2 linked regions of the Homo sapiens genome follow. The protein of the gene in region 1 interacts with the protein of each later gene in a biochemical or structural test. Each region holds a gene or a part of one and is shown in the gene's direction. Other genes may lie near its edges.

Region 1 (3,816 bases):
ATCAGCACAGCACCCCGGGGAGCACCCTCCCCCCACCACCATCGGCCCAGCACCCCAGGGAGCAAGCTCCCCCCACCACCATCTGCCCAGCACCCCAGGGAGCACCCTTCCCCCACCACCGTCGGCACAGCGCCCCCGGGGAACACCCTCCCACCACCACCATCGGCACAGCACCCCAGGGAGCACCCTCCCCCCACCAACATCGGCACAGCACCCCGGGGAGCACCCTCCCCCCACCACCGTCGGCACAGCACCCCCGGGAACACCCTTCCCCCACCACCGTTGGCACAGCGCCCCCGGGAACACCCTCCCACCACCACCGTCGGCACAGCGCCCCGGGGAGCACCCCCAGCCCCAGCTGCACCAGGGCTTCTCTGAAGGAGGTGGTGGTCCGGTTGTCTGGGCCCCCGTCATCCAGAGTAGGGGACCCCAGAACGGACATAGCGCTGTGGCTGGGAATCGGCTTTTGGGATCAGAACCTGTGGCCTGGTGTCTGTGGGAAGATGCCAAGAGGGGACCGATGCAGCGTGGTTGAGGCAGCCCGGGGCTCCTGGGTCCCCCACGCCTGGCTCAGTGATGCCACTGAGCACCCGGCAGGGAGCTCGGAGCGTCCTGGTGCCAGCGGGGCTGTGGTCGGGCCTGCGGGTGGAGGACCCAGACGTGGGGAGGTGAGGACTTGCTGGCCAGCCTGGGGCTGCTGGCTCTGCTCTCTCAGCTGTGAGAACCCCAGCTCCTCACCTTGGGGCAAGCCCGGGGCACCTCTCCCTCCCCCAGCACCCCCACCTTGGGGCCAGCTTGGAACACCTCTCCCTCCACCCGCTCTTGGCTTGGGATGGGGGGAGCTCCTGCGGTTCCAGCTCTGGGGCGGTGGGGATGGGGGGCTCCTGCGGTGCCTCATCCTGGGGCTGCCTCCCTCTTGGGCATCCCTCCTGCACTGCTGCCACTCCTGGGTGACCCTCGCCTGAGCCTCCTGGCCCTTCCTGCCTGCTGGGCCACCCCCGAGCCACGTGTGCCTCCAGCAGCTGGGACCCCCTTCTCTTACCTGTCCCCTTCCTACGCCTGCCCCGTCTAGTAGTGGCCAGTCCTGGGGAGCCTGTCTCCACAGTGTCCCCAAGCGCCCCGACCCTTCCTGCTGCACAGCTTCAGGCCTCCCGCCCAGTCTGCTCTCAGGTCCCCACTCCCCCGGGGCCATGCCCTCGCTGGGCTGGCGTTGGGGTTGCCGTCAGCCCCTGTCCTGCTCCCCACCCTCCGCCAGCTGGGCCTTTGCTGCCTCCTCCTGGCCCTGAGCCCTGCAGGTCCAGGACCTTGTTCTCAAGTCTCTCCCTCCCTCCCCGAGACCACTCCTTCCTGAGGGGCCAAGGCCACCCAAAGGCCGCACTCGGCCCCACGCCTGCCCCTGAGCTCAGTGCCTTCCTAAAGATCTGCTTGCATCAGGGCTGGCGCGTGCCCTCTCCCAGCTCCACCCCGGGTCTGGCTGCTCACCTTAGCGAACGCCTCCCTGACCCCAGCTGCCCAGTGGGCCGAACAGTCACCCTCACACTTTTCTCCCTCTCACCTCAGGAGTGAGATCCCAGGGGGCTTCTGCCAAGCTCAGAATCCCCCCAGGCCCCAGCAGGACCCTGAGGCTGCTCTCCTGTGGTGCCGGTGCCAGCTCTGTCCACACTGTCGTCTGAGCAAGGTCACACTCCCACCGTGGACCCCGGAGTGTGGACCCCAGAGTGTGGTCCTTCCTGGTGCCCACAACTGGGTCTTCTGCCTGCCCCCACCTGCCCTCACCTCCCTCCCCACACCCACTGGGGCTGGGGTTGGGCTCTGCTCTGCTCCTTCAGGGTGGCAGCGGCCCAGGAGGCCGGCACGTTGTCCCAGCTGAGGAGGGAGTGCTCCCACTTCACGATGGGGCACTCTGACAGCACGTGCTGGCCCTTCGGCCTCCCTGCGAAGCTGGCAGATTGACCTGGCCCGCTGCCTCCTCGACCATAGCTTTTGGGCAGCTCCCGCTGTGTGCAAAGCCTGAGCACCTGAGGTCCTGCTGAGGCTTGAATTCTAGATCAATTTGCTTCTCAGGAAATGAGGCACTCACTCCTAGGCTTTGGCAATGGCCAGTGTCGCTGGTCCCCTCTGGAGCCCCAGGCCCTTCTCTCTCGTGCTGAGGGTGGTCACCGACCACAGGTGCATGTGACACAAACAGCAAAACCATGCCGCGTCCCACCGCTCATCCGTGAGGTTGTGTCTCGTGTGCGGGGCCAGCCCCTGGCCCACTGGGGAATCTCCCATTGATGTAGGTGTGTTCGTTGCATGTGCAGACTCCGGGAAACAGCGCTGGCTGTCCCAGGGCCGCCTCCTCTGGGAACTGATCCCTGGGGAGCACCCTTTCCACCCTCATTTGTTTCTTCCTTTTTTTTTTTTTTTTTTTTTCTGAGACAGAGTCTCACTCTGTCTCCCAGGCTGGAGTGCAGTGGCACGATATCAGCTCACTGCAACCTCCGCCTGCCGGGCTCAAACAATTCTCCTGCCTCAGCCTTCCGAGTAGCTGGGACTACAGGAGCACACCACCATGTCCAGCTAATTTTTGTATTTTTAGTAGAGACGGGGTTTCACTATGTTGGCCAGGCTGGTCTCCAACTCCTGACCTCGGGTGATCCGCCTGCCTCGGTCTCCCAAAGCGCTGGGATTATCGGTGTGAGCCGCCAAGCCCGGCCTTTCATTTGTTTCTTGGAGCTCCGTTCTGGTCTTTGTGGGTCCCAGTACCTGCTGCGTGTGCCGTCATCTGAGAACTCAAGCCCTGCCTGCAGCTCACGCCAGGCAGTTCCCTGTATCCCTCCCCTCTTAGGGGCACACTGGAAGGGCTGACTCCATGTGAGCTCTTACAGTTGAACTGGAAGAGCAGGGATCCCACCGGCCTCTCTCCCCTGGTGTAGACCCACACTCCTTACTGCATAGATTTATCTTCAGATTCAACAAGTTTTTTAAAGCCTACATTGAATGTATTTAAATATCTGAGAATTATGTTAAAACCGTCACTATTTTTTCTAGTTTGACTTTTTAAATGACAGAGAAGAGCATGAGCCTGGGAGGACATCCCAACACCCGGATCCCTTCAGGGACATTGGAAAGTTTTGTTGGGGTCTCACGCTGGCGGCGTGGTGGCTGCTGACTGGCGGGTGTGTGGTGCACTTGCTGTGGCTCTGAAGTTCCAGAACCTGTTGTCAGGAAGAAGCACTGGTTTCTTCTTAATGGTCTCCAACATCTTTTCCAGGGATACTTCAGGCCAGGGAAGATTTTGTACCATATTCCGCTCCTACTCCCGGGGCGCACAGGTAACACAGCATCCCCCGAGCTGGGAGATCAAACCAACTTTGAATAATAACATTTACAATGCTTAACTTACCATCCTTTAATGGATGATTGGAGGACAAGGCGGTTAAGCTTACGTATAAATTGGTGCTGAGAGTCTAAAAACGTGCTGTAGAGTGGTTGGTTGTTTGAAAGACTTCATCAGTATTACGGATGTAAGCGTGCATTTACGGGACTGTGTGTGCATGTACACGTGTGTGCAGGTACGTGCACTGTGTATGCGTGCATCTGTGCATGAGTGCCTGTGTGTGTGTGTGTGTGTACATGTGTGTGCAGGTACGTGCACTGTGCATACGTCTGCATGAGTGCCTGTGCGTGTGTGTGTGCACGTGTGTGCAGGTATGTGCAGTGTATGTGTGCATCTGGGCATGAGTGCCTGTGCGTGTGTGTGTGTACACGTGTGTGTAGGTATGTGCACTGTGTATGCATCTGTGCATGAGTGCCTGCATGTGCGTGTATGTG
Region 2 (3,816 bases), on another chromosome or scaffold:
TAACCATTTTATATGTGTAGTCTTTTCTTTATTTTTCTTTTTTTTTTCCTTTTTTGAGACGGAGTTTTGCTCTTGTTGCCCAGGCTGGAGTGCAATGGCACGATCTCGGCTCACTGCAATCTCTGCCTCCCAGGTTTAAGCAATTCTCCTGCCTCAGCCTCCCGAGTAGCTGGGATTACAGGCACCCACCATGCCCGGCTAATTTTTAGTAGAGATGGGGTTTCTCTGTGTTGGTCAGGCTGGTCTTGAACTCCTGACCTCAGGTGATCCGCCCGCCTTAGCCTCCCAAAGTGCTGGGATTATAGGCTATGAGCCACCACGCCCAGCCATGTGTATTATTTTCTTAGGACAGAAATATACATGGATATATGCATTTAAAAGTCATCAGCATCATTCTTGTAGAGGAGCCTGAAAAAACCTTTTTTTTTGTTTTGTTTTGTTTTGTTTTGTGACAGTCTTGCTCTGTCGCCCAGACTACACTGCAGTGACATGATCAAGGCTTACTGCAGCCTTGACCTCCTGAGCTTAACTGACCCTCCCACCTCAGCCCCCCAACTCGCAGGGACCACAGAAAATTCTTTATTCGGAAAATTTTAAGCATTTTTACAATGTAGGAAGAACAGTATAATGAATCCCCATTACCTAAATTCAGCTTTAGTAGTTACCAACATTATGTCAATTCCAAAGGAATTTTTAATAAAAAATTTTTAAGGGACACATAATTGCCTCCCTTAATTTACAGATAGATGATTTGTTTTTCAGAAGAAATATATCAGCCTTATTGTACTTAACTTTAGTCCTCACAACCTATTAATTTCATCTGATCCCCAAAAGAGAAGTAAATAATTACATGACACGAGGGAGCAGAGATGACATGATATCTTCTGCCTCATTTAGATTTTCCTGATGGCCTCCTAGAGCACTAGACCCTTGCTATCTTACCTGAAATAGTTCAACAGCCTCGTTACCATATCCCAACCACCCACTCCTTACCACCTGCCTTACTACCATTATACTGATCTTTAATAATGACTTGAGGAGAGGAGAATCTCATTACATTTATCCTCTGTTTAAAACTTCCTTGGGGCCAGGCCTGATGGTTCACACCTGTAATCCCACACTTTGGGAGACTGACAGGGGGATCATGTGAGACCAGGAGTTTGTGACCAGCCTGGGGAACATAGCAAGACATCATCTCTACAGAAAAGTTTAAAAAATTAACCAGACTTGATAGTACATCCCTGTAGTCCTAGCTACTCAAGAGGCTGAGGCAGGAGGATCACTTGAGCCTAGGAGTTCAAGGCTGTAGTGAGGTATGATAGTAGCTATGTAGTAATGCCACTGTACTCCAGCTTGGGCAGCAGAGCAAGACTCTGTCTCTTAAACAAACAAAAAAACCTTCCTTTGTTCTTCCTTCCCTACCTATGAAATAAAACCCCAAATCATAGATTTTCATTCATAATCTGGTTGCAGCCTATCTTTCTAGCCTTCTCTTCCACTGTCTGTTTCTTCTCTACCATTTTAAGCTTCCTGGTATTCCTAGAATACGTAACCTATTTTAGGGCTTGTACTTACTTTACAGGATCCCATTTAGATACCAACTTGTGGATGAGGCCATTTTAACTACCCTAGAAAAAAGTAGTTTCTAAGTTTTTTTTTATTTTGTGTGTGTTTGTGTATGTGTGTGATGCCACTTAACTGAGTTATATTTAGTTAGCAGTGTAGGTTTACTGCCCTCCTCACTCTCAATTAGACAGTGATCTCTTCGAGAGCAGGAATTATATCTTATTCTTGTCTCTTAAATACTTCCTTAGTGCCTGCACGTAGTAGGCATCCAATAATGGTTTGTTGAATGAATGTATTCACACTTCTAGAATTTTATAACCTAATTTTAAAACAGGTTCTCTCCAGACAGGAAGAGTTAATCAAAGTTTGGTTTTGTATATTTTTCTCTCCCCTCCTTGAGGACTTTTGTTAAAATTTCTAAAGAGAGTCTAGTTCTATAGTTTTTTTCCTTAGGGGAAAATACACTTTGGTAAACTAGTATAGCATATCCATCTTCAATAATCCTATAGTTAAGGTAAGTGAAATCTACTTTCAGTATAATTTTTTTTTTGTTGAACAATATTGTTTTATTTTGTGAGTTAGAATAGATTTGTGCTATACAGCTTATAGTAGCCTTGACTAATTTTTGATATATTTCAGCTCATGGAATGCTGTGTAAATGCCCTGGTGACATCATTTAAAGAGACTATCTTAGCTGAGTGCCAAGGCATGATCAAGAGAAATGAAACTGAAAGTAGGTAAAACATCACATAAAGTTATCATAATCTTCTAAGAGGGTATCTTTGAAACAAATCACTTACTAAGTTGCTCTTAGTTAATTCTTTTCCACATAGGTATATGTGGAACTGTTAGAGTGAACTATACTTAAGGAAATAGATAAAATATTTAACACAGAGGCACTGCTAAGAGTATATAAACTTAAATTTTAAGCATTTTCCCTCTTAGCTATCAACATCTGTGTATGTGTATGGTGAATTTCTACTTTTTTCTCAAAAGCAAGACACTGCTTTTAAAGGCCAGTTTAAACTGGAAACATATGTTATAGATTAGAACCAGGTATTTGACTTTTGTGTGGAACCTTGTGATGAATCTTTTTAGAATGTAATAAAACACTCCCTGTTAATAGTCATCTCTGTCCCCCAAAATACTTTATAAGATTTCTAAAGGATTTTTTTATTACTTCAATGTTTTCTTAAAAAGATGTGTTTTGAGAGGTAGCAAGTATATAACAAACTAAAAAAAAAAATTGTACATATACCTACTACCCCAGTAAAACTGCTTTTAACATTTTTTTGCTTTTGTTTTTTAAATAACGTACTTCTACTGAGTTTCCAGGTTTTATTATATCTAACTGCAAGGTCCTGTTTAATCTCTAGTTGCATTTAAAGTGCATATTTCAATTCACTTAAGTTCATACACTTTTTAGGAGTAATTCAGTAGTAAAAAGCAAGCTGCTTTATTGGCGTAAACAAAATACTTGTATTCTGTGTGCCAGTCTAATTAGAGTTATGTCTGATCTATGTTGCACTCTTTTCAAAAGGATTTATTTAGTGGTAATCAGTACCGTGAGGTAGGGTTTTTGTGAAGGTCAATAAAATGGCATAACATGAAAAAGTGCTTTGTAAATTGAAAAATTATTTATGAATACAGTTTTATATTCTAATCTCTAATATAGTTGCTTTCGTAATTATTACTCATGTTTTTTACCTTTTGATGATATGGCTGTATATGTAGTATTACAACTACCTTATGAAATAAACTAATCTTGTGTGTAAATAAATATTCCTTTGCACTGAAAACCAAATGACTCACCTTTTCTTTTGAGACTGGGTCTCGCTGTGTTGCCCAACCTGGAATTCGATGGCACGATCACAATTCACTGTAGCCTTGACCTCCTGGGCTCAAGCGATCCTCCCACCTCCCAGCCCACTGAGTAGCTGGGACTACAGCCGTGTACCACCATGCCTGGCTAATTTTTGTATTTTTTGTAGAGGCAGAGCCCCACCTTGTTGCCCAGGCTGATCTCCACTGCTTCTGGCCAAATGACTGACCTTTTAAAGAAAGGAGTTGGGTTTTGCAGTATTTGATCACTTTTTTTATTTTTATTTTTTGAGACCGTCTTGCCCTGTCACCCAGGCTGAGTGCAATGGTGCAATCACGGCTCACTGCAGCCTCAGCCTCCTGGGCTTAGGCATTCCTCACACTTCAGCCTCCCAAGTATCTGGGACCAAAGACATGCACCACCACACC

The links.
Region 2: the proteins of RAB40B (region 1) and CUL5 form a complex in vitro, tested with the Homo sapiens proteins (one study listed by BioGRID).

What each region holds. Positions count from the first base shown.
Region 1 is NC_000017.11:82,660,488-82,664,303, reverse strand, and holds part of RAB40B (ras-related protein Rab-40B), read left to right. Parts: intron 1-1,560; coding exon of another isoform or gene 1,561-1,870; exon of another isoform or gene 1,871-3,233; coding exon of another isoform or gene 3,234-3,256; coding exon 3,257-3,317; intron 3,318-3,816. UniProt on the Homo sapiens protein: RAB40B small GTPase acts as substrate-recognition components of the ECS(RAB40B) E3 ubiquitin ligase complex which mediates the ubiquitination of target proteins.
Region 2 is NC_000011.10:108,067,891-108,071,706, forward strand, and holds part of CUL5 (cullin-5), read left to right. Parts: intron 1-2,205; coding exon 2,206-2,299; intron 2,300-3,816. UniProt on the Homo sapiens protein: Core component of multiple cullin-5-RING E3 ubiquitin-protein ligase complexes (ECS complexes, also named CRL5 complexes), which mediate the ubiquitination and subsequent proteasomal degradation of target proteins.